Linked DNA regions of Homo sapiens. The protein of the gene in region 1 interacts with the protein of each later gene in a pairwise test. Each region holds a gene or a part of one and is shown on either strand. Other genes may lie near its edges. The genes, in order: CFP, GNE, LCE1A, FHL5, KCTD9, PRKAB2 and BANF2.

The links.
Region 2: the proteins of CFP (region 1) and GNE interact in binary tests that used the Homo sapiens proteins (3 or more experiments, as listed by UniProt).
Region 3: the proteins of CFP (region 1) and LCE1A interact in binary tests that used the Homo sapiens proteins (3 or more experiments, as listed by UniProt).
Region 4: the proteins of CFP (region 1) and FHL5 interact in binary tests that used the Homo sapiens proteins (3 or more experiments, as listed by UniProt).
Region 5: the proteins of CFP (region 1) and KCTD9 interact in binary tests that used the Homo sapiens proteins (3 or more experiments, as listed by UniProt).
Region 6: the proteins of CFP (region 1) and PRKAB2 interact in binary tests that used the Homo sapiens proteins (3 or more experiments, as listed by UniProt).
Region 7: the proteins of CFP (region 1) and BANF2 interact in binary tests that used the Homo sapiens proteins (3 or more experiments, as listed by UniProt).

Annotation. Positions count from the first base shown.
Region 1 is NC_000023.11:47,622,782-47,626,930, forward strand, and holds the end of CFP (properdin precursor), read right to left. Parts: coding exon 3,992-4,149; intron 3,739-3,991; coding exon 3,547-3,738; intron 3,389-3,546; coding exon 3,277-3,388; intron 1,660-3,276; coding exon 1,494-1,659; 3' UTR 501-1,493; downstream 1-500. UniProt on the Homo sapiens protein: A positive regulator of the alternate pathway (AP) of complement. It binds to and stabilizes the C3- and C5-convertase enzyme complexes. Inhibits CFI-CFH mediated degradation of Complement C3 beta chain (C3b).
Region 2 is NC_000009.12:36,241,449-36,244,948, forward strand, and holds part of GNE (bifunctional UDP-N-acetylglucosamine 2-epimerase/N-acetylmannosamine kinase), read right to left. Parts: intron 1-3,500. UniProt on the Homo sapiens protein: Bifunctional enzyme that possesses both UDP-N-acetylglucosamine 2-epimerase and N-acetylmannosamine kinase activities, and serves as the initiator of the biosynthetic pathway leading to the production of N-acetylneuraminic acid (NeuAc), a critical precursor in the synthesis of sialic acids.
Region 3 is NC_000001.11:152,826,174-152,828,597, reverse strand, and holds LCE1A (late cornified envelope protein 1A), read right to left. Parts: upstream 1,126-2,424; coding exon 793-1,125; 3' UTR 501-792; downstream 1-500. UniProt on the Homo sapiens protein: Precursors of the cornified envelope of the stratum corneum.
Region 4 is NC_000006.12:96,615,128-96,619,126, forward strand, and holds the end of FHL5 (four and a half LIM domains protein 5), read left to right. Parts: intron 1-481; coding exon 482-645; 3' UTR 646-3,499; downstream 3,500-3,999. UniProt on the Homo sapiens protein: May be involved in the regulation of spermatogenesis. Stimulates CREM transcriptional activity in a phosphorylation-independent manner.
Region 5 is NC_000008.11:25,434,434-25,437,933, forward strand, and holds part of KCTD9 (BTB/POZ domain-containing protein KCTD9), read right to left. Parts: intron 2,053-3,500; coding exon 1,985-2,052; intron 1,898-1,984; coding exon 1,802-1,897; intron 1,080-1,801; coding exon 930-1,079; intron 1-929. UniProt on the Homo sapiens protein: Substrate-specific adapter of a BCR (BTB-CUL3-RBX1) E3 ubiquitin-protein ligase complex, which mediates the ubiquitination of target proteins, leading to their degradation by the proteasome.
Region 6 is NC_000001.11:147,158,971-147,162,470, forward strand, and holds part of PRKAB2 (5'-AMP-activated protein kinase subunit beta-2), read right to left. Parts: coding exon 3,470-3,500; intron 2,811-3,469; coding exon 2,742-2,810; intron 1,864-2,741; coding exon of another isoform or gene 1,827-1,863; intron 673-1,826; coding exon 595-672; 3' UTR 1-594. UniProt on the Homo sapiens protein: Non-catalytic subunit of AMP-activated protein kinase (AMPK), an energy sensor protein kinase that plays a key role in regulating cellular energy metabolism.
Region 7 is NC_000020.11:17,730,966-17,733,668, forward strand, and holds part of BANF2 (barrier-to-autointegration factor-like protein), read left to right. Parts: intron 1-2,703. UniProt on the Homo sapiens protein: May play a role in BANF1 regulation and influence tissue-specific roles of BANF1.

The DNA.
Region 1 (4,149 bases):
TCACTTTGGCTCAGTCTTCCCAAGATGACCAAGTAAGTACTCATCAACTTCATCTTCACTTCAACTCATTGACTGGTCCACTTGAATAAGGGGAAAACGAACCAGAGAAGTCAAGTAAGTGTACCAATATACTCTGGGTGTGCATGTCACAAACCTCCTACCCGAACCTTCCCACACAGACGGGTCCCCTCCACCCACAGCACTCTTGACATTTAAGACCTCATCACAATCCATGATGCTTCAAAAATGTCCAGCCTACTACCTTTCTGTGCGTGTTTCCTTTGTAAAATGGGGATAATAATACTTACCCACATGGGTTTGCTGTGGACGAAATGAGTTCATGCTATGGAAAGCCTTAAGACACTACTAAGCACACAGTAAGTACTTTCTAAGTAGTAGCTATTACCATGATTATTATGATTCTTATGATGCGTCTCTTCACAAGGGGCCCGGCATTCAGTAAGTGGTAAATGAATGAGCAAATGCTAAAAGCACTGGTGTCTGGCTTTGTTCCCTTTACTGCGGAGACACGTAACGCTCTGATTCCTCTTCTTCTCTATTCTCCGTGATGTCCAGCACTATTGTTAGTATACAGTAGGCGTTAAGTGTTGAATAGATGTTCACACGAAAGGAATACCTTCTGAGTCTGTTCCCTCACTCAGATGTCCTCTTTCTACCAGCCCTCCTCCACCCTAGATGCTCAGACTCAGCTTTAGCATACAGCAGGCGCTAATAAGTGTTGAATGAATGAACAAATTACCAGAGGAAAGTGTCTGGATTTGTCTTGGGGGCTCCTCCGGGCGGATACTGACTCTAGCTTCTTTGCCCCTCCTCAGCTCAGAGCGCAACACAGGCACTTCCTCGGCCCGCCCCCCGCCTCGCCGAGCTATTTGTCGCTGGTAATTGTGGCATTGGAGCTGGGCTGTCGGGAGTGGGTGGGTGCAGGTGCTCGGGCGGCAGGGTGCCAGCCTCGGCCACGCCTCTGCCGTTCATCCTCGACTGACGCGGAGTCGGAGTCGGCCGGCAGAGGCTCCTCCAGGGTTCCGGCTGGTGGGAATCTAGGGAGGTCCAGGAGACGGGGAGACAACGAACAAGCACGCCGGCCAATCAAGAAGTGCCTGCCAGGACAAGTAGCCAATCAGGAAACCCGTAACGCGGAGCTCTGCAGAGGAACGTGCCGGGCGGCCCTGAGGCTCTAAGGGGGCTGCGCAGGGCCCAGACATTGGGGTTATGGCAGCGGCGGGGAGAGGCTGGGACTGCACACTCGCTTTCACTCCTGCCAACCTGCGACCACAGTGGAAAATACTGTTTTCCGCAACAGGCTGCTGTGTCTTGGCCCGTGCTGTGCTGTTTGCCCTATGAGATGCTATCACCCTACTTTTGGGGAAGGGGATAGGTTGTTTTTCCTCCTTTAAGGAATCGTAGACGAACTCGAAGAGGCTAGTTTATTGAGGTTTGGAAGGTCAGGGGGCTCAGAGTGGAGGAGAGAAGTGTTAGAGTTCCTCTTCCTCAGGGTCTTTGCAAGCAGGCACGTGTAGACATGGTCGTTTCTCCTCCACCACCAGCTTCTGCCCTTGTAGCTCCTCACACCGTGGCAGCGGTCTCCCCCAGAAGGTCACGTTCTTCTCGCCCTGACCTTCGACCATGGAAACGGTGGGCCTGAGGCATTAGGGGTGGGGAGGAACGGAAGGGAGAATCTCAGGGAAGGCAAGAATGCATTCAATTCTTATTGAGTGCCTGCTATATGCCGAGGGCTACTTTTTTTTTTTTTTTTTTTCCTTTTTTTTTTTTGAGGCAGGGTCTCACTCTGTTGCCCAGGCTGCAGTGCAGTGGCACAATCATAGCTCACTGCAGCCTCAATCTCCTGGGCTCAAGTGATGCTCCTGCCTCAGCCTCCCAAAGTGTTGCTGGGATTACAGGCGTGAGCCACTGTGCCTGGCCTCCCAACACTACTTTTTAGCTATAGGATATTGGGCAATTTCTTTAGCTTCTCTGTGCCTCGGTTTCCCTCATCTGCAAAATGAGAATGGTAGGAATAGTAATATTAATACTCACCTCACGGGGTTGAATGAGGATAAATGAGTTAATTCAGGTAAAGTGCTCAGAGCAGTGCCTGGCACACAGCAAGTGCTCAATAAATGCTGGTGAATGTTACTTGTTGGCATGAGCTACTTTCTTTTACCTCCGAAATATATACCCTTTATATCTCTTTCCACTGCCTCCAGGAAAAAACCCAATGCCTTGTCCTGACATTCAAGGCCTTATTGTTGGGCCCAAATCCCTGCCCCAAGCCAATCTCTCTCTCTGTCTCCTCCACTTTATTCAAGCTCAGTCCCTGTCCAGAAAGGTCTTTACCTGGGTTATTTGTCCCACTAGGAAAGCCCTCCATTCACTCCCATCCCAGTTCTCTCAATTGCTTCTTCCTCCACTCAGTCTCTCGCTCACTCAAGTCCTTTGTGCCTCCATTCAACACCTCTAATCTTCAGGCCCCACTCTAACCCCCTCAGCCGGGAGATCCCTTCCCAGATGGCAGCCCTTCCACGAGCTGGGAATAGTTCACTTAATCTAGTAGCTTGATGTATGTGGAAGGAAGAAAAGGGATGAACATTTTAACCCTCTCTAACACCTGGGCCCCTCTGGCACCTGGAAACACTTATAGCGGCTAATCACCTAGCTCCAAGGCTCCGTTCACAGTCTTGATGCCAGGAATGCCTTTCCCAACCCCTACCTGCCCTGGGAGGCCCAGTCAGCTTCCTGGACCTAGGTTGAGGTGGCAGCACCTGTTGCATGCACCAGCTGTTCCTCATATGCCTCCTGTCAGGGGCTTGCTCAGCTGGGTCCCTTGGAGGATCCACAGGATCTGGGCTGTGTGTATCTGCAACTGTTGCTGAAAAAGCCTTGGAGTGCCTTGGCTCAGTGAGATGCTGACAAAGTGGATGGAGGCATGAGTGACTGTGGGAGGCAGGCAGTGAATGGAGGCCTGAGTGATGGCAGCTAAAAGCATGGGTAACTGAAGGTCGGAGTCAATGACACATGAAGGACTAAGTGGATGAGTGACTGAACAGGTGACTGAGGGGCACAGAGGCTACGAATTATCCTCCAAGAACTTCTTTCTCATCTTCTTAGTTTCTCCCCACTTCCTGCAGCTGGGAGGTGGCACTCGGCAAGGCAGATACCTTAGATTCAGCAGTGGAAACCCTGGTTTCCTGGGGTAGCCGACTCTCCCGCCTGTAATATAATGACCCCCTCCCAGGCATACTTTGCCCTCTCACTCACGGGTACTTGGGGAGCAAGGGTGTGCAGAGGCGCTGGCGGGCACGGGTAGGATTAGGTCCACAGGGGGGCATGCACAGCCCCCAGGTACTCCACTCTGACCATGATCCTTTCACTGCAATGAGGGGTAGGGGTCACAGAGTCAGAACTGGAGGTCTTGGTGGGAAAGTGAGAGGGAGGCTGCAGAGACGTGAGGTCCACAGCAGAGAGTTGGAAACCCCTTATCCTGCATGGGCCACCCCACCCTCAGAGCACAGTCTGTGGGACACTCACAGGGGCAGTGCTGGATGCTGTAGCAGTGCCGGATATCCTGCTGTTGCCCGGCACATCGATGTCCGTCAAACTTGCGGCCCCTGCAGGTCCTCCCGCGTGACTGCTGGCCCGGGATTTCTTGACAGCTGATGGACTTCATGTTCCGTCGGATACAGGGGCTCCACTCCCCCCACGAGTCCCACTCCCCATCCACTGCAGAGACAGGGCAACAGGGGATTGGACCAAAGCAGGGAATCAGCAAGGGGGTTCAGAGGAAGGAATGAGGGCGGTAGGAGGGAGTAGAGGTGATCAGATGTGTGAATGGGGGACCAGGGGTGGAAACAAGGTATCAGGGCCAGGAAAGGAGGAATCAGAGACAGGAACAAGGCCTCAGCAGCAGGAGCTGGGCAGCAGAGAAGGGCAAGGGGGACTTAGGCATGCAAATCGTGAACCCTGAGATGCTGACCAGGGCAGGGCACAGCTGTGTTGCAGATGTGGGTCCGGGTGGCATCGCCAGCACAGAAGGGGCCCCCATGCTGGGGCACAGGGTGATTGCACGTCCGTTGTTCCATGGTCTGGCCCAGGCCACAGGTCACAGGGCAGGGGCTCACAGGGCCCCAAGGC
Region 2 (3,500 bases), on another chromosome or scaffold:
CAAAAACTAGAAGTCTTTTTAGACCAGGGAAAAGTAAAACGCAAGACAATGAGCCAGAGCAACTCATCCCTGGCAAGAATACATTTCATACAAAGTTTGCACCTGCTTCTCCACCTGGCACTTCTGATATTATTACCAGTCTTTGTATCTATCCATAATTCAGCAGCCTCAGCCCTTTCATAAATCCTTTCCATAAAGGCATTTTGTTTTCTGTTGTAAAGTCCTATATTTACTGTGATATGCCTTTCATTATTAGGAATTTAACATGCCTTTTTAACATTGCTAATTTTAAAATTAAGATTGTTATATATTAACACTCTGGTTACAAAGCTGCAATGTTATATATGGCCTACCCAACCCTATCTTCCTGTAAGCAGAGTGATAGCATGAGAAGTTCCATATTAAGGCCAGGTGCGGTAGCTCATGCCTATAATCCCAGCAGTTTGGAGGGCTGAGGAGGGCGGATCACCTGAGGTCAGGAGTTCGAGACGAACTTGGCGAACATGATGAAGCCCCATCTCTACTAAAAATACAAAAATTAGCCAGGTGTGGTGGTGTGCGCCTGTAGTCCCAGCTACTCAGGAGGCTGAGGCAGGAGTATTGCTTAAACCTGGGAGGCAGAGGTTGCAGTGAGTCGAGACTGCGCTAATGCACTCCAGCCTAGGTGACAGAACTCCAGCCTTGGCAACAGAGCAAGACTCTGTCTCAAAAAAAAGAAAAAAAAAAAGAAGTTGCATATCAAGAAGCAGGAACAGGTTTTATATAAAATGTATTACTGCCCAGTGGTGGATGGCTCTGCCTCATTGTCTTGAGTTTTCTTTTTCACTGGTTTAAAGACCAAAAAAAAAAAAAGCAATTTTAGCTGTTCTGTTGTCCTTCTTTCCATAAAGAACTGCTTAAATTGTCCCAAATAGGACTTTAAGCCCTACAAGTACAATTCAATTTTGCTACATTCTGCTTTCTAATGGTTATTTGCTGTTTTTTGTTTTGAGACGGAGTCTCGCTCTGTTGCCAGATTGGAGTGCAGTGGCGCGATCTCGGCTCACTGCAGCCTCCGCCTCCTGGGTTTCATGCAATTCTTCTGCCTCAGCCTCCCAAGTACCTGGGACTACAGGTGTGCGCCACCATGCTCAGCTAATTTTTGTATTTTTAGTAGAGATGGGGTTTCACCATGTTGGCCAGGATGGTCTCAATCTCTTGACCTCATGATCTGCCCGCCGTGGCCTCCCAAAGTGCTGGGATTACAGGTGTGAGCCACCGCATCTGGCCTGGGTTTTATGCTTGTTTTTTTTTTTTTTTTTTTTTTTGAGATGGAGTCTCGCTTCTTCACCCAGGCTGGAGTGTGGAGTGCAGTGGTGCAATCTCGGCTCACAGCAACCTCCCTGGGTTCAAGCAATTCTCCTGCCTCAGCCTCCTGAGTAGCTGGGAGTACAGGCATGTGCCAGCACACCTGGCTAATTTTTGTATTTTTACTAGAAATGGGGTTTCACCATGTTGGCCAGGCTGGTCTCCAACTCCTGACCTCAAGTGATCCACCTGCCTGGGCCTCCCAAAGTGCTAGGGTCACAGGCATGAGCCACTGGCACCTGGCCAAAACTAGTGTTTTGTTTTTTTGAGACAGGGTCTTATTCTGTCACCGAGGCTGGAGTGCAGTGGCACAATCATGGCTCACTTCAGTCTTGAACTCCCAGACTCAAGCAATCCTCCCACTTCAGCCTCCGGAGTAGCTGGGACTACAGGCACACACCATCACACCCGGCTGATTTTTGTATTTTTTGTAAAGACAGAGTTTCACCACGTTGCCCAGGCTGTTCTCAAACCCCTAGGCTCAAGTGATCTGCCCACTTTGGCCTCTCAAAGTACAGAGATTACAGGCATGTGCCACCACATCTGGCACATTATTATTTTCTATTCATTACAAGTTTTTCAGTGATACAAGTTTTCCAGAATACCTAGAGAGCTAATGGTATAATTAGAACAGAATCCAAGAGTGTTTCATCGGAAGCATACTAAAAGGAGAGACTGAAGAGACAGAAGGTTGTTCCACCAGCATTATCTAGACGATCCCTTGATAATTACAAATCTGTCCAAGCATAAGAAATATTTAGAATGGGCCAGGTGCGGTGGCTCATGCCTATAAACCCAGCAGTTTGGGAGGCCGAGGCAGGAGGATTGCTTGAGCCTAGGAATTCATGACTAGCCTGGGCAAAATAGTGAGACCCCATCTCTACAAAAAAATTTTAAAAATTAGCTGGGCATGGTGGTACATGCCTGTAGTCCCAGCTACTCAGGAGGCTGAGGTGGTAGGATCACTTGAGCCCAGGAGGACAAGACTGCACCACTGCACTCCAGACTGAACAACAGAAATATGTAGAATGGAGTACGTTATATAGCAGGAAAGCCCAATTCCTTTCCTGATGTAATGTAATCTAGATTAAAAATATACAAAATCTCTTTGCTTATTCAATTTTCTTTTTCTTTCTGTGTTTTTTTTTTGTTATTGTTTTTTGTTTTTTTTTGTTTTGTTTTGTTTGAGACAGGGTCTTACTCTGTCACCCAGGCTAGAGTGCAGCAGTGTAATCACAGATCACTGTAGCCTCAACTACTCAGGCTCAAGTGACCCTCCCATCCCAGCCTCCCAGGTAACTAGGACTACATGCACACAGCACCACGCCCAGCTAATTTTCTTATTTTTTGTAGAGACAGCGTCTTGCTATGTTGCCCAGGCTGGCCTTGTAACTCCTAGGCTCAAGCAATACTCCCACTTCAGCCTCCCAAAGTGCTGGGATTACAGGGTGAGCCACCATACCTGACCCAACCAAATCAATTTTCTGTTCATTAATTTTATAATTCAATAGATCTGCCTCTTAGAAATGAAAGGTCCTAAATAGATTATTAGTCCTAATTTGTCCCCTAGGTAGTACTCTTACTATAAATTAACCAACTGACATTCTGTTTGTAAACTTGGATTTTTTTACCTCTGATTAGCAAAAGATAATTTCTAGGAAGCTAGAGCACTGAACAATAAAAATTTTGGAACATAGGGCTTATTTACAAAGATATACTCTAAGGCTACAACTATGACTTTTGCTTTTTAATAATCATCATAATCCCTTATATTAATAAGTACTTATGGCTTACTGCTTCCAACATTCATAATCTGAGTATTCCAACAATTCTATAAGAAAAGCATTAAAAATAAAAATGAGCCAGGCGCGGTGGCTCATGCCTGTAATCTCAGCACTTTGGGAGGCCGAGGTGGGCGGATTATGAGGTCAGGAGTTTGAGACCAGCCTGACCAACATAGTGAAACCCCGTCTCTACTAAAAATACAAAAAAAAATTAGCCAGGTGTGGTGGTGTGCGCCTGTAACCCCAGCTACTCAGGAGGCTGAGGCAGGAGAATCGCTTGAACCCGGGAAGTGGAGGTTGCAGTGAGCCGAGACTGAGCCACTGCACTACAGGCTAGGCAACAGAGTAAGACTCCATCTCAAAAAAAAA
Region 3 (2,424 bases), on another chromosome or scaffold:
TTTTTAAGTTTTTTCAGATCATATTTACCACATGTTCTATGCATACTTGTAGTTAGAATAGTCTAAGATTCATGGTCTGTTTGCAGGAAGTTTACATATAATTTTCTAATATTTTTTACTGAAAGAGAATGAAATTTGGGAGTGAGTGGGCAGTATTGTAAAGGGGAGGAGGGGTAGATGGATGAAAGGATGGGGTGCATATCTGTCTCCCTGCCACACCCTGGAGACCAAGTAGGACCCTGAAGAAGTCCAAAGCACAAGGCTCTGTGTTCCTGAAACACCAGGAAGATGGGCACAGGCAGAGCCACGTAGTGATTCCTCTGACATAAGGTGTCAAAGTAGGAGCCATAGAAGTTTTTCTCTCCCCTCCTCCATATCTTTAGCCATGCGACTAGCACATCTTGATTTCCAAAGCTTCCAGGCAGCAGGAAAGTAGAGAGCAGTGAAAAAAATATTGGAGACACAAACAGGCAAGGAACAGTCCACAATAAGTGGCAAGAAGATCTTTTGCTTTATTGTTTCACTTGAGGCTGCAGGAAATGAGCTGGAGAGTGAGTTTGTGGCTTGGGATCCCAGAGTAGACAACACAGTTGGTGTCAGGGGCAGCAGATAGGTTTGTGGGAGAAGAATCAAGTTTCTGGATCCCAGGGCAGAGGGATCCTCTAGGCCAGAGCTCAGAGCCTTCACGCGGGCATCTCAGCCACTCTTGCAGGCCCAGGAGGAGACAGGTGAGGAGGAAATGTTTGATCACTCATTTCACCCGAGTCTGCTCTTCTAGGTGCAGAGTCCGCTTCAGCAGCAGCCTCCAGAGTGCTGGCCGCTGTCCCCTCCACAGCAGCTGGAGCCTCCCGAGGGCTGGCTGCAGCAGCCAGAGCTCTGGAGTCTGTGACGGTGGGACCTGTGGCGCCTGTGGTGGCTCAGGCAGCAGCCACCTCCCCCAGAGCTGCAGCCGCCCCCAGAGCTGGAGCCACAGCAGCCTCCGGAGCTGACACTGCAGCAGGAAGAGACTGGAGGGCACTTAGGGGGACACTTTGGGGGGCACTTAGGAGTGGGGCACTTGGGAGGGCACTTGGGGGTGCACTTGGGAGGGGGCTGGCACTGCTGCTGGCTCTGCTGGCAGGACATCTCGGCGGTGGGTGTTCAGGAGCTGAAGGAGAGTCAAACAGCAAGTTACAGCCAGGCACAGAGGCCACCCTTATTGCCTTTTTACCATCATTTATTTTTGCTACATTTTTAAAACCTGTTCAAATAAGTCAGAGAGAAATTATCTCTAAAATTGTTTGTCAGATGCTTTCACAATGTGTTATAGGATCATCAGGATGTTTTTATAAAATAGAAATAGACTATCTTATTTTAACCCAGCAATATAATGAGGACATCTGTATTAACAAACTTGCCCAAAATTAATGTCCTTTAAGTGGAAAAGGCAATCTGACATTCACAGAATCTGACTGAAGTCTACCCTTCTGCACCACTTAGAATTCTGAAAATGTCCAATCTAGGAGCCAGTTTAAACCTGCAGTTCTGCTTTTTAAAAAATAAGCAAGAAGACCCTATCTCTAAAAAAAAATTAGCTGGGTATGGTGGCACGCACCTGTAGTCCCAACTACTTAGGAGGCTGAGGCTGGAGGATCGTTTGAGCCCAGGAGGCCAATGCTGCAGGGAGCCAAGGTCATGCCACTGCACTGCAGTCTGGGCAATAGAATGACACTTTGTCTCAAAAATAAATGAAATAAAATAATAAAATAAAAATAAAGATTCCCTTTTGTAGGAGCTTCCCAGATGGCTGTATTTGGTTGACACAAACACACAATATATTATAGTCAGAATTGCAAAGGGTCATCATATGAGCTGGCTATCCCAAATCATATTATAAATGGAGAAATGAGGTCTAAAGCTAATTGTAGCAAGCTGACACGTGACCCTAGATTTCCCGGTCTGGTGAATCCATGCCTAGTGAAGCTCCCTCTTAGAACCCACAGACTCCTCTATCTGCCACCCTGGCAACCATAAATTTCAACTTGTTACTTGCTGTTCAACACTGGAGCTTCTGATATACAGATGCCCAGGCACCACTCATGACTAACTCACTCCTGATGAAGGTGTAAGGGCCATGTATCTCTGTGTTTATCAAGCTCCAAATATGCTTCCTCTGGTCTCCGGTCTCCATTATTTAAGAACCACTATAATCCCAGTACAGGCTTCGGGGAAGAGACACAGTTGAGTTGCTAAGATCTACTCTCTGAAAGGAAAGTTTGTTTTAACTTATCTGGAATGGGAGACACTAAAAAAAATACAGAACTAATTTGGATTAGAGCATGAAGCATAGACATACAAATCATCCAGGTGCTTCCCATCTCTCCTGCCCCACAGCTTGAACTCCATCAGAATTTCTAGACATTCTCCACCTCTTCTAATCCAGCT
Region 4 (3,999 bases), on another chromosome or scaffold:
ACTCATTACAACATTGGACATCAAACTAGGAAGCATACATTTATTTCCTTTTATCTTCATTTTGCAGCTAAGAAAACTTAAAGTCATATAGAGAAAAAGGGGAAATGTATTCATACTTAGATATCTCTGACTTCACAACCTATACCTTCTTTCCACTATGCTACACTGTATTGTCTTATCTGGCTTAGACAACCTTATCTGTTTCCAAAAATACCTGACTTGCATATTAGCATTCTGCCTTCTTCTGTTGATTATGGCAGAATTTGGCTGTGAATCTGGTTGGGTGGCATAGGTGTAACTTTCCTACAGTGGATAGTTCCAGATGGACACAGGGCCAGGAAGCAGCATTCTTTTTTGGGTTATTTGCCTCTGCGTTGTTTTGCTCATAGCTCTATCTCCAGTTCCTAGAGGAGCATCTGCTAGAATGCTCAATCTGTTCCTTGAAAGGATAGATTAATCTTTTTCTCCAATTCCTTTACAGGTCTCACAGGTGCCAAGTTTATCTGCTTTCAAGACAGCCAGTGGCATAGCGAATGCTTTAACTGCGGGAAATGCTCTGTCTCCTTGGTGGGTAAAGGCTTCCTGACCCAGAACAAGGAAATCTTCTGCCAAAAATGTGGCTCCGGAATGGACACTGACATCTAGGAGACAGTCCTTGCCCACCTAAAATCCATTTTGCCTTCGTTGTCACTAAAGCCAGAACTCAGTTGCGGTCTTATTTTTGACTTAAGTTTTAGAAAATATTCATGTAGTTTAGAGTGGAAAAGTTTTTGCACACATTTTGATCGAACTATATTCTAAGCACACAAAAAGCACAGTAGAACAGAAATGAATATATGCTAAATCACAAAGACAACTCTCCTTGCAAAATACTGCACTCTGCTGTTAGAAGCAGAGGAAAATATCTCTTCATAATCAAATATATGACATATACCTAGGAGCTGTGGATGTAATTACTGAAGAATGAGGTTTTTCATACCTGAAGAGTAAAAGAAAAACTAAGAGATCAAACTGAGAGGTATACATGAGGCTAGTGTTTGCATTCCTGGTTATATGTAATGTGATAAATTAGCTATGAATGGTAAAAGAACAAAACTGATCAGAGTAAATTCATTAGCAATTATCACATTTAAGAATTGTTATCATTTAAAAATCATCCTTTTTTTCACACATACTGACTGTAGAATTAAAAAACAAAGCTACAATTTGCCCTCATACACACTGCTTCCACAGCTTGCTAGTTCTGTGTTTACTCAATGGAATATGAGAACTGAGGACATTATGGCTCTCATAATCTGCATAGGTATAAAGAGGATCATTTCTACCTAGGGATAGCCAAAGCATGGGTTTCAACACGTTTTGTATTAAATATATTTTCAAAGTCCACAGTGATTTTTCTAAACGCTTACAGATTCCATGAAATAAAAGTCTATTCTTTCAAGTGGAGCTAACCAGGATAATCTTTGTCCCCAAAGGCAAACCTTTAAAATAAATAGATCATTAAATCTTCACTTGTGGAAATGAGTTTTAGGGAAGGGATTGAGTCTTGGAACATGACTTTCATCCAGATATCTAACGACATAATAGAATGCATAATTAGCTCTGTGCCTCATGCATTATTGCCTTCTAAAATTACATAAATGATTAATGGGCAGACATAAAAGTGGGCTTTAAAGAAATCTAGTAATAATAAAAGCTGAAAAAGAATAATTCACTGCTGATAATTCAGAACCTGCAAAGCAGCACAATAGAGTAATGTGGGCTGTAGGCGAGCCCTCCCCACTCTTCCCCCACACCTGTGCCACACCCCCCTTACCCCAAGCCAGTTGTGCCCCCAGTTTCAATCTCCTGCATAACCAGGAGGTGCACTCCTAACCCTAAGCAACTGTCCTATAAGTCAGTCAGTGTTTATTGATCACACAGGAAGTAAAGAGCCTTAGTGAGAAGTCCATCACCAGGTTTATCTTTATACCAGACTTTAACTGATCATGACCCTATCTTGCTACCCCTGGATATTTTCCACATTACTTGGGACAAATGGAAAGCAACCTCTGCTCTCCATGATCTGTTTTCACATTGGTTATAGCATCTCTTGGATGGAGTAGAGGGAGGTCAGGAGAAGAAGCCCACATAGATATATAACTGTCTTCTCTCAGATTACACATTATAGCATTAAAGGTTTTGATTAAAATCTAATTGTAAGATACTGCTGATTACAATTACCAAAATAGCATCACAGGAGATTCAATTAAAATTGTTATGGAAATAATTTTTGAAATAGTTTAAAATGCAAGAATATTCAGCGATGTTAATAATTTAGAGATACTAATAAGTGTTCTGCTAGATAGACTATTTGAAAACTATAAATGTATTTTTGGATTAACAATGCCAAGGTATTTTTTCATATTCACATTGAAAAATACAGGCAAAACTATCAATATTTTTTCTGCATTATATGAAATTTCACAGGTAGAACTAAATCTATGATATAGAAAATAATAGCACATTACACATAGAGAAAACCAAGCCACTTAGGTTTAGATAGATATATAACATGTAACATCTTCTCTGTTAACCAATTATAGATACATATACAACATGTAATGTTTTCTTAGTTAAACAATTGGAAATGTTTAGGCATTTTACTGTGTGGGGGCAGTGAGTATGCACATGATCAGACTTGTATTCTAGCTTTACAATTAAAATTCACAGAATCATTTCCTAAAGATTTTATTATCCTTTCATAAGTATAAATATATATACTTTTACATATAAATAGTTCTGCATTTAGAAGGTATCCTACACATCAAACATCCATTAAACATGTACTATGCCAAAAGTTAGAGCTTATACTGTTGTGGGTCTGGAGTTGTAGGAGGATGGATCATGGTATGGAAATGCAGAAGTGCCTGATGCAAAGATCCTTGCCTGCAGGTTAAACAAAGCACCACATATGTAGACATAGCACACATATGCAAAACAACTAAGAAAAAGACCTCCTTAGGTCTTTGCGTAACACACACAAAGATAAATGTAAAAATTATATAGTTGATTTATATGGTTTATGTAACAAAGAGAAAAACTCCTTAATGGACTTATCCAAAGATGAAATGGACTGACTCAGGAAACAGTGGGCTCCCAGTAATTCAAAGGTGACATCTGCATGGGCAGGAAAGAAGTTAAAAGCAAATCCCATGTGCCAATAACAACCAGATGGCTTGGAAGTAGCAGAGACTGCCGAAGAGCAGGAGAAAATAAGATTGCTAAAAGAGAAAGAGTCAGAGGAAGGGAGAATATTAACTCTTAGGATAAAAAGTGACATAACCGGCCATAGAAAGTTACCAACTGTTCATAAGTAAAGGAAGAAAATAATTATTGTAGTGTTTGAGGAAAATTATGCTTTTGATCCTTTGTGGAATAGAACCAAAGAAAGCAAGGTTCCAAGGATTAAGTTTCTTACTGAAGGAATAAGTTTGGTTAATGGCTACAAAAGTGAAAAGAAAGAGGAAGAAGGCATTGAAGGCCACGAGTTACATTTGTTGGCAAAGATGAGTATGCAAGTCAACAAGTCAAAATATTTTATTTTGTCATGTTGGGGATTAAAGATGACAAAAGAAGCAAAAATGTATTTCTGCTTCAATAATAATGACTAGGAAGCCCAAGGGTTCAATTTTAACTTGGCATTATAAAAGTGTTAAATTGGGACAAACTAGCTCCACTGGTTAAGTAAAATGTGGTTATGTTACAATCCAGGCTTCAAAGCTTACATCGTTGCTATAACTTAAAAAAAAGAAACACTAGATTGTTCATTAGAGTAAAATATTGGCCTACCATTATGAAAAATGCATAACACTAATCACAAATGGTTAAAAAAAACTGCCAAATTTAATATCACAAATGAAAAGTCAATCCAAAAACACATTTCATGTTAGCAATACCATTTTTGAATTTAAGAAAAAAATAACTTTTAATCTACTTGGCATATTGTTAATTGTCTGT
Region 5 (3,500 bases), on another chromosome or scaffold:
CAAACATCTTTTTTTTTTTGTCCTTAACACAAACAAAGATGCCTCTCGACATTTCACTATTTAAAGATTAGGTCCTTCAAACGTTTTTTTGATGTTAGTCTTTTTCCTGTTTTGCTACTAACCTGACCCTTCATGATAAGACAGAATAAAGGACAGTGAAAGTAACTAAAATGCATATTTGGTAGATTTTGTTACTCGCCCTGATACACAGCTTCATGGAAAAATAAGCTGCAGCTAATGAGTAAAACCCAAATTAGAGTAATTCAATAAATGACTACCAAAAGCAAGATGGTATTAATTCAAAAGACATACAGACACGGGCCTTGGTGGTAAGGAACTTAAAGTTGTTAAAAATTAATAGATTTCATTGTTGGTCTGCATATATCCTCTAACTTCAAATAAACACAGATAACTGTTATAAATACATACATATACATATATATAAATATACACATATATGTAGAGAGAGGGAAAACGCCACTGAGATGTTAACTTCCACAAACTGATGCATACCATGTTTATTTCAAAATATCTGTCAAATACTTCTTGAGCAGTAACATTTTCCCATTCCAGAAATGAGGCTGAATAGATTTCAAGGTTCCTTTCAGCTTTACCTTTACAATTAGCTGAAAATATGAGTCCTGATAAATAAAGTACAGTATATTGAGGAGATCAAGAACTAATTCCAAGATTTAATTTCTTATTAGTTACTAAACCTTTCAAGTCTATGTTTAATAAAGGATATCAAACCTGTAAAACCAAATTCATTTCACTTTCAGACCTTTAGTCTTATATCAACATAATAAATTATCTGTTTTCAAGTAAAAGCTCCAGTAAAAGATAGTTATAATTCCTGTCTCAAAGGCTCTTTGAGACTGTTCAATAGACTAAACATTTAATTTTCTCTTGTAGCCTAAAATGATACTTACGTCAAGCACTGATCCAGAGAGATCAGCTCGTTCAAGATTTGCACAGCAAAGATTTGCATGTGCAAGATTACAGCGGCTTAAATTGGCCATTTTGAAGTTAATGTATCGAAGGTCCAAACGAGAAAGATCAGCACCACTGAAGTTCAAACCCTGAAATAAAAAAGCACAAATTGTCACCATAACTAAATCGTCTGTTTGTATTAAATTTAATTACTATAGCTAACCACCAAGTTTTTTTTAGAAGCAATTGGCAGTTCAGTCACTTGGAGTTTATTACAGAACATGATAAAATGGAACTTAGATACATAAAAGAAGTGTCCTTAAATAGGTTCCTCATAAAAGAAACTCTATCAATATATACATTAGAATATAGCCCGGCTATAATTCATTTCTGTGTAGAAGCTTCTAAAGAGGGATCCCTGTTAGTCCTATACCTGCTAATAAGTATTTAAACCTAATTATATTTAAATTATTTTATTAATTCAGTAATTCAAAACAGTTTATTAGGCAAAAATGAGTACTGTGGTCTTTACAATTTGAAATGCTATAGTACACATAAGTAAAGTACCTGCCACTGATCAGCCCATATATTGCAAATGTACAAATACTGACTTTTAAAAAACTGCTGCAATTTCTATGCATTATTCATAAACTGTTGCATGAGGTATAATTAGACAATTTAAAAAGGCTATTATTGCATCTCTTTTTCGTTAACCATTTCAGAACTAAATCAATGCTATGACTCATAATTAAATTAGATCTTGCATGTAAAAGAAAAACAAAGCAAGATAATCCCAAAACACTAGAAGAATGTAAAATTTTATTCATAGATTTGCTGATAGAAATAATTGATGTAAAAGCCTGCTAATTACCTGGCATCGCAGTTCTGACTTGGTTGGAGTTGCTAGCAAAAATCGGACAAATTCCTTTCGGGATATTGGTGAATGATCCTCCGGTGGTTGAGAATTCTTAAAAAAGACATTAAGAAATTAGTGGAGTCTTTTGGGAGATAGCTACAATGAATGTAACACTGGCTAATGTAAAAACAGGCTTACCTTTATTGCCACTTCTAGGTGTTCAATCAATGAGTCAATACCAAAAAATCTTGCTTCTTCTAACACACCTATCAGAACAAAAATAATTCTGAAACAACCTAATTTAGTGAATGTATTACATTCATTTTGAATTTACTAAAATACGATTAGTTCACATAATCTTAACATTTAATTGCCTTTTTAAATGGAGCAGATCTGAACAGGTTTGCCACAAGTATCTTTTACATACTGAATCAGAAAATGATAGAAATGAATAAAAGTTTAAAAAGTACAAAAAAGTCAAAAGTATAATTCAGAAATCTGTCTTATAGGAGAATAAATTTTAAAATATTTGTAAATACTAAAAGAGCTTTCATTTATCATTTACTTTAACTTGGTAAAAAAAAATGTACATCCTTTACATGACTTGGTATATTTACTTATTCTAATCTGTTAATAAACATCATCAGAATGTGTGGGAATACATTTGGGTTCCATTATCTTTCAAATGAGAAGACCTCAATCAGTTGGCTGTTGACTCAGTAAAAAACTACTTAGAACTCTGGAATTACAAAGAAAGTATCAGACATAATCCCTCCCTTCAAACACTTACAAGCTAATAAGGGTAAGTAGATACAGAAAACCAGAAGCAGTTATTTGGGAAGAATAATACAATCTTTTCTGTGAAGACCAAACTCTATGGTCAACAATCCAATTGTAAAACAAACGTCATCCAAGGTACAGCATCGGGCTACCACTCTGGCATACAGGGTCCACATTTCCCCTTCAAGAGGCATCCAAAGATTATGCCATTCCGTTCGGATATATATCCCTGGTGGAAACTCAACATATTATAAAAGAGGTTCTTGTGGGCCACGCTCTCAATTTGCCAAGGTCTAAGTAAAGCAGAACTCTTAGGGAATGCAGCCAGGATACGTTTCCAATTCTAGGTTTAGAATTAAACCTTTAAAACATCCAGAGAAGCCATAGAAATACAAAAGACAGGCCGGGCTCACACCTGTAATCCCAGCACTTTGGGAGGCTGAGGTGGGTAGATCACTTGAGGTCAGGAGTTCGAGACCAGCCTGGCCAACACATGGTGAAACCCTGTCTCTACTAAAAATACAAAAAATTAGCCAGGCGTGGTGGCAGGTGCCTGTAGTCCCAGCTACTCGGGAAGCTGAGGCAGGAGAATGGCGTGAATCCAGGAGGCGGACCTTACAGTGAGCCGAGATCGCGCCACTGCACTCCAGCCTGGGTGACACAGCAAGACTCCATCTCAAAACAAAAAAAATACAAATATTAGCTGGGCATCATGGTGTGTGCCTGTAATCCCATCTACTTGGGAAGTTGAGGCAGGAGAATCACTTGAACCCAGGAGGCATAGGTTGCAGTGAGCAGAGATCACACCATTGCACTCCAGCCTGGGTGACAGAGCGAGACCCTGTCTCAAAAAAAAAAAAAAAAAAAAAAAAAAAAAAAAAATCTGGATTTGAATCCCAGCTCTGCCACTCACTACTTTTTGGTGTTAGTGAAA
Region 6 (3,500 bases), on another chromosome or scaffold:
TGAAGGAGGCTATTAAAGGAAGAATGTGAAATGAGAGGAATAAGGGTTCTTGTGGGGCATCTGGTATCATATAAACAACACAGATTGTGCCACATACTCTGGGAATATAGAGAACCCATGCAAGAAAAACTGCCCTTGCAATGAGGCAGCTGTTAAGTAGGGCAGCGGTCTAGCACAAGCCCATTCCTTGGAGAGCCAAGGTAGCAGTGATAGAATCTCCACCCAACAAGGATCCTAAGAGTTTGCTGTTCTTTCATTTTAGGAAAAATCTTCCTATATAGTTATTCCTGCAGCGCCCCCAAACAGGTCTTGGTGAAAACCCACAGGCAGAAACAATACTTCTAGCTGGGGCTAGGAGGCTTCCATTTACCTTCTTCTCATATGTATATTTTTTTTTCTTAAAATAAATTCCGTGAACTCATAAAGCTCTCATCTGCAATCAAATGCAAAAGCAGAGCATCCTACTCAGAGGCTCTGAAACACACATATCAGCCTCAAAGCAAATCAGCCTTCCAGTCTCAGGTAAGACTGGTTCAGTCCAGAAATGCAAGGGAGATGCTTCTCCTGAATCCTTAGAGGCAAGAAGGGATCCCTTCAAATGGGCTTGTATAGCAGAGTAGTAACATACTTCTTCTTGTAGCGATGGGTTGCGCTAAGGACCATCACACTGTCCTGCAAGGAAAAGAAACATACGCAGCTAATTCATTACTTCAGACAGTAGGTAGCTCTTCCCAGTCATCAGTCCTTCACAGTCACTCACTTTTAACAGAGATAGTTTGATATAAGAGCAGGAGGTCAAATAAGTTTTAGTTCCAATTCTGACTCCTATCATCATTCTACTTGTGGCCTTGGGTAATCTACTTAGTGTGTCCAAGTCTTTTTATCTCATCATTACAAAAGATAACACCTACCATTAAGGTTGCTCTGATGATTACATGAGAATATCTGACACAGTTTCTGACACATAAAAGGGCTGAAGAAATAATAGTCTCCTACCTTGCTCCCTTCCCTACTTTAAATTCTAATGTTGGGCCTAAAACTAGCAAGAAAAACAAAAAAGAACAAAATATTCTGGCATCCATTTCTAGAAGAAAGTCTTAAAGACAATGAGGAAAAAAAGAAACAATCCTTCTGAAAAACTATTTCCAAGTCCCAAAGCAGGTCTAATTTTCATTTAAAACCAGGGATGACTTCCAAAAGATCTCTCTGATTTAGAGGGAACCTAGGAATCCCTCTCTATCCTTGAACAAAGTAGATGTCAAAATCCTCTTCAGAAAGACACCCAATCCAATGGATCAATTCCAAACTGCCTAAACAATATGAGAGAATCAGGAATGGGTCAGAACCAAGCTAAGCCACAATAATCAAACACCTTCACCTGAGTCAGAACCAGTAAGAAGACAGCAAGAGGTACCATTTCCCAGGCTGTGTTGTAGACTACAGATGTACCACAGGAGGAGATGGCAAGCCTAGGCAAATTAAATGACATCCAAGGAGCAGTTACAGGAGGCAAAATCCATCAGATCCCAAAGAACCCAAGCAAATCCGATTAAGAACAAGTGTATCCTTCTACCTTCCCCCGTACTGTATTATCCACCATGAATGCTTCTCGGGTTAACACTCCAGAGTCATGCTGACACAAAGCCTAAATACGACAGAAGCAAGGCAGGTAAACAATTCACTTTTACACTTCCACAGGTTTTGTGGAAATGAGGAATACCTGAGAAAAACCTACTTGGAAAGACCTGGCATAATGATAATATAGGAAAGAATATGAAGTCAGCATAGGAGGACTGGACCTCAGCAGTCCTGTCTCTGGTACTTACTGGCAATTTGACCTTCTCTGAGCCTTAGTTTCTTTATCTATAAAACAGGAGTTAAAAATACTTACAACGTTATTATAAAAATTAAATTCAATAATATATTTTTAAGTGTTATATTGTACCACATAGTTTGTTAGCTATATCAGTGATTTCCCGAATCCAGCTATATATCCAAGTAAAAGCAGCTTAAAAAAATTATAGGGCCCATCCTAGATGCACTTATTCAGAATCTCTAGGAATGGAGCTGCTGAATCTGTATTTTTACAATCTTCTCCAGGAGACTCTAATGATAATCAGCCTGGTTTGATAACTGCAGAGCTATATAACTTTATTCCAATAGCCAAACCACAAAGACATAACAAGACAGAACAGAATGGCTATTTCCAACCCAGACTCTAAAGCAGCAGAAAAACCAAGGAGGACTCTAGAGTTGACGGGACAGGGCAAATCTGGTCACATCTCTCCTTTAACTAGTGTATAGGAGAGATGCAAGCACCTGAGTATATATGAATGAGGCACCTGAAAGTAGCTCAATTCCACCTTCAAAAAATGAAAGCCTTAATATCACATTCAAGCATTCTTTGAACTGGAAGCTAAACCTGCTTTTTCTGCAGAAGAAATCCTATGCTATGAACACAAACTTAAGTAAACAGTTAGTGTAAAGATTCTAGTCACCCAAAAAATAACTGGGCAGCAAAAAAGTCCTATCAGAGGGCAATTCAGCCAGCCAGAACACAGAGACTGAGATTTTAAAACAAACAACCTAGTAGTTAAAAAAAAGAGAGTTCTTCTATAATTTGATCATTACTGCCAGCTTCAGCTTCAATGAAATAGCAGAGAAAGTAACCACTGAGAACGTATGTTACCCTTGACCTCTCATTCCAGGGAGCTCTGTGAAGAGCCAGGGCCACCACTTACCTTAATGGACAATGCATAGAGATGGTTCAGCATAACATGGTTGGGCTCAGGGAGTAAGGCTGGGTCACACTAAGAGAAAGAGAAAAAAATTACTAAAAAAATTACTAAATGAAATTAATGCACAGACAAACCAAACAGCTTACTCTTCCTCAGAGCTCTTTGAGAAATTTAAACTAGAATGCGCTATCTCTTTTCAATAATGCACCCACTCTAGTATGTATCAATAATACAATCCTATTACAGAAAATTAGAAAAATTATCAGTCCAGGGCAGAAATCTCATGCCTCAGCATCTACTAATCTTCCTTAAGAGAGCTAAAACAAAAATCTTGCCCACAACACACAAGGAAGAGTTGTGTTACAAGGCAAAAACAATCATAGTAGGAATCAAGTAGATTGAATAGAGACATGAATTATATACAAAAAAGCTTTCATAGTTCTTTTGTACACCCCCAAATGATAACTACTCCTTTATGTTGTGCTCAAAAGAAGTCCATAGCTCTGATCCTGATTTTATTAGGATGAGGAGACAACTATGAATTTTTATATCAGTACCTGAAAAAGCTGTGACTCACCACTGGAAAAAGGAAATCTGTAATGTTATTGGTATGTGTATGACTTATAATCTCAACACACCTCTGTAGTAATCCTAACCTCTAGGATTACTGAACTTTGGTCCAAATGGTCCTAGACACCCCCAGATGCCCCAGTAATACTCAGGATACTCACAGAAATATTAGTGTCTTTGTTAAGAATAACT
Region 7 (2,703 bases), on another chromosome or scaffold:
GAGGATTCACACCAAAGACACAGAGTTTAAGCCGGGCGTGGTAGCTCCTGCCTGTAATCCCAGAACTTTGGGAAGATCACTTGAGGTCAGGAGTTCAAGACCAGCCTGGCCAACATGGTGAAATCCCGTCTGTATAGAAAATACAAAATTAGCCACGCATGGTGGTGCATGCCTGTAATCCCAGCTACTTGGGAGGCTGAGGCAGGAGAATCACTTGAACCTGGAAGGTGGAGGTTGCAGTGAGCCGCTATCGTGCCACTGCACTCCAACCTGGGCTATAGAGTGAGACTCTGTCTCAAAATAAAAGAAGAAGAAAAAAAAACACACAAGAGTTTAAACCTGAAATGACATGAAGACTTAGGCGACTGGCGAGAGAGAATCAAAGAAAGTTGTGTCACTGCACCATGGAGTCTGGTGGTGATTGAAGTCCGTTCAGCACAGGTGCTCAGGACCTGCGGACTTGGGCAGAGGGCATTGTAAGCAGCTAGAGAACAAGAGAGGGCAGAGACAGCTTATCTCTGCTTGACAAGGCCCAGCATTATGGTGAGTACTGAGCATTTTAATAAGTGTGGATCTCAGCCAGCTATTTAATTTTTAGGGCCCACTGTAAAATGAAAATGCAAGACCTCTAGTTCAAATTTATTAGGGGGTGTAGTGGCACGTGCTTGTAGTTCCAGCTACTCGGGAGGCTGAGGTGGGAGGATCATTTGAGCCCAGGAATTTATGGTTGCCAAGAGCTACTGCATGCTACTGAACTCTAGCCTGTGTGACGGAATGAGATCCCGTCTCTTAGGAAAAAAAAAAAAAAAAAAAAAAGTAGGCCAGGCGTGATGGCTCACTCCTGTAATCCCAGCACTTTGGGAGGCCGAGGCGGGCAGATCACGAGGTCAGGGGATCGAGACCATCCTGGCTAACTTGGTGAAACCCTGTCTCTACTGAAAATACAAAAAATTATCCAAGCGTGGTGGCACGCACCCGTAGTCCCACCTACTCGGGAGGCTGAGGCAGGAGAATCGCTTGAACCTGGGATGCAGAGGTTGCAGTGAGCCAAGACCGTGCCACTGCACTCCATCCTGGGCAACAGAGGGAGACGTCGTCAAAAAAAAAAAAGAAAAAAAGGAAAACTAATAAAAAAATAAAAGAAATTTAGTAAGAATTTCCAGATGACAAGAGCCAAGTGTTAAACCAGCTCAGGGTGCTCTTAGCACCAGGCGCTGTGTGAAAACATGGCTCAGATGCAAGGGAACCCAACCCTGGCATAGGCTCAAACTGCTGCTGTTTAGCAAGAAGTGGGCACCGCAAACTGGAGGGTGATTCCTCCCCTGCTTGGGGGCCGGCCCCTGGAGGAACCTCACTGTTTGCACTTGGAGTTTAGGGGCATTCTGCCCTTGAGCCCCCATCCTTTTGTTTGTTTGTTTCGAGACAGAGTCTCACTCTGTTGCCCAGGCTGGAGTGCAGTGGCATAATCTCAGCTCATGCAATCTCCACCTCCTGGGTTCTCCTGCCTCAGCCTCCCAAGTAGCTGGGATTACACGCGGCTGCCACCATACCAGGCTAATTTTTGTATTTTTAGTAGAGATGGGGTTTCACTATGTTGGCCAGGCTGGTCTCGAACTCCTGACCTCAGATGATCTGCCCGCTCAGCCTCCCAAAGTGCTGGGATTACAGGAGTGAGCCACCACACCTGGCCGAGCCCCCCCTCTTACAGCTGCAGGACGGAATGTAATTCCCTGGCTTGGCCATGGCCACGGCCACTGTCCAGAGTGGTAGGAGGACAGGGACAGCTGCTCAGGGTTTCTGTGTTTCTGTGTCACCCCTCCCACCCCAGTAGCTGAATTCTGGGGAGCTCTGGCCCAAGGAGGGAAAGGGGCAGCATCTTTTCTCCTTGATTAGGGGGCTTTCTGGAGCCGGGGGAGAAACCAAGCGGGCATCTGGCAGGGCCATGATGGGAGCCCACGACTCCAGCTTCCCTGGGGAGCAGGGTGAAGTGCTCAGGGAAGAAGGGAGAAGGGAAGCCAACTTTCCCTCCTGGAAGATGCCACAGGGAGACAGGAGGGAAAACTGAGGAGGGAGTGTCAGGTTGCCACTTGGCTCCAGAGGCTGCAAGACGGGGCTTCCTGTAGCATTCCTGGAAAGTTTGCCCAGGGTCCACATGTTCCCAGGCATCCTGGCTGCTGAGCCTGTGGGTATGTGGAGGCTCTCACTAACAGGCCAGCTGATGCTGGCAGTGCCACTTCTAAAACGGGCAGGGGATGCATTAGCCTCCAGGCCAGACTGTGGACAGTTGGGAAGTGCAGGAATAGTGCAGAGGAAAACAGGAGACTTAGTACCTCCACCTGGGGAATGGGAGGGGTGAGTACATGTGAGGATCAGGTGGATTAAAACGTGTCAGGTGTCTAGCAGCACGTGGCCGACAGAAGTGCTAAAAAGTGCTACTTAGCATTAACTACTATTATTAAGTATTATCATGAACATTTCTCTTTATGGAGAAAGCTTTGTGTAAGCCACTTACTATTAATTATTGTTAATTATTATTAATATTCTCTCTCCTTGGACACAGCTCTATGTCTCTCGTTTCTGTTACCTTCACCTTGGCACCTCCCACACCTACGTCTACTGGCTCAATTAACACTTAATAAATGTTATTTTTCAAAAACATTAATTTAAATACATCTCAGTAAAATCCATTCAAAATGGGAGGAT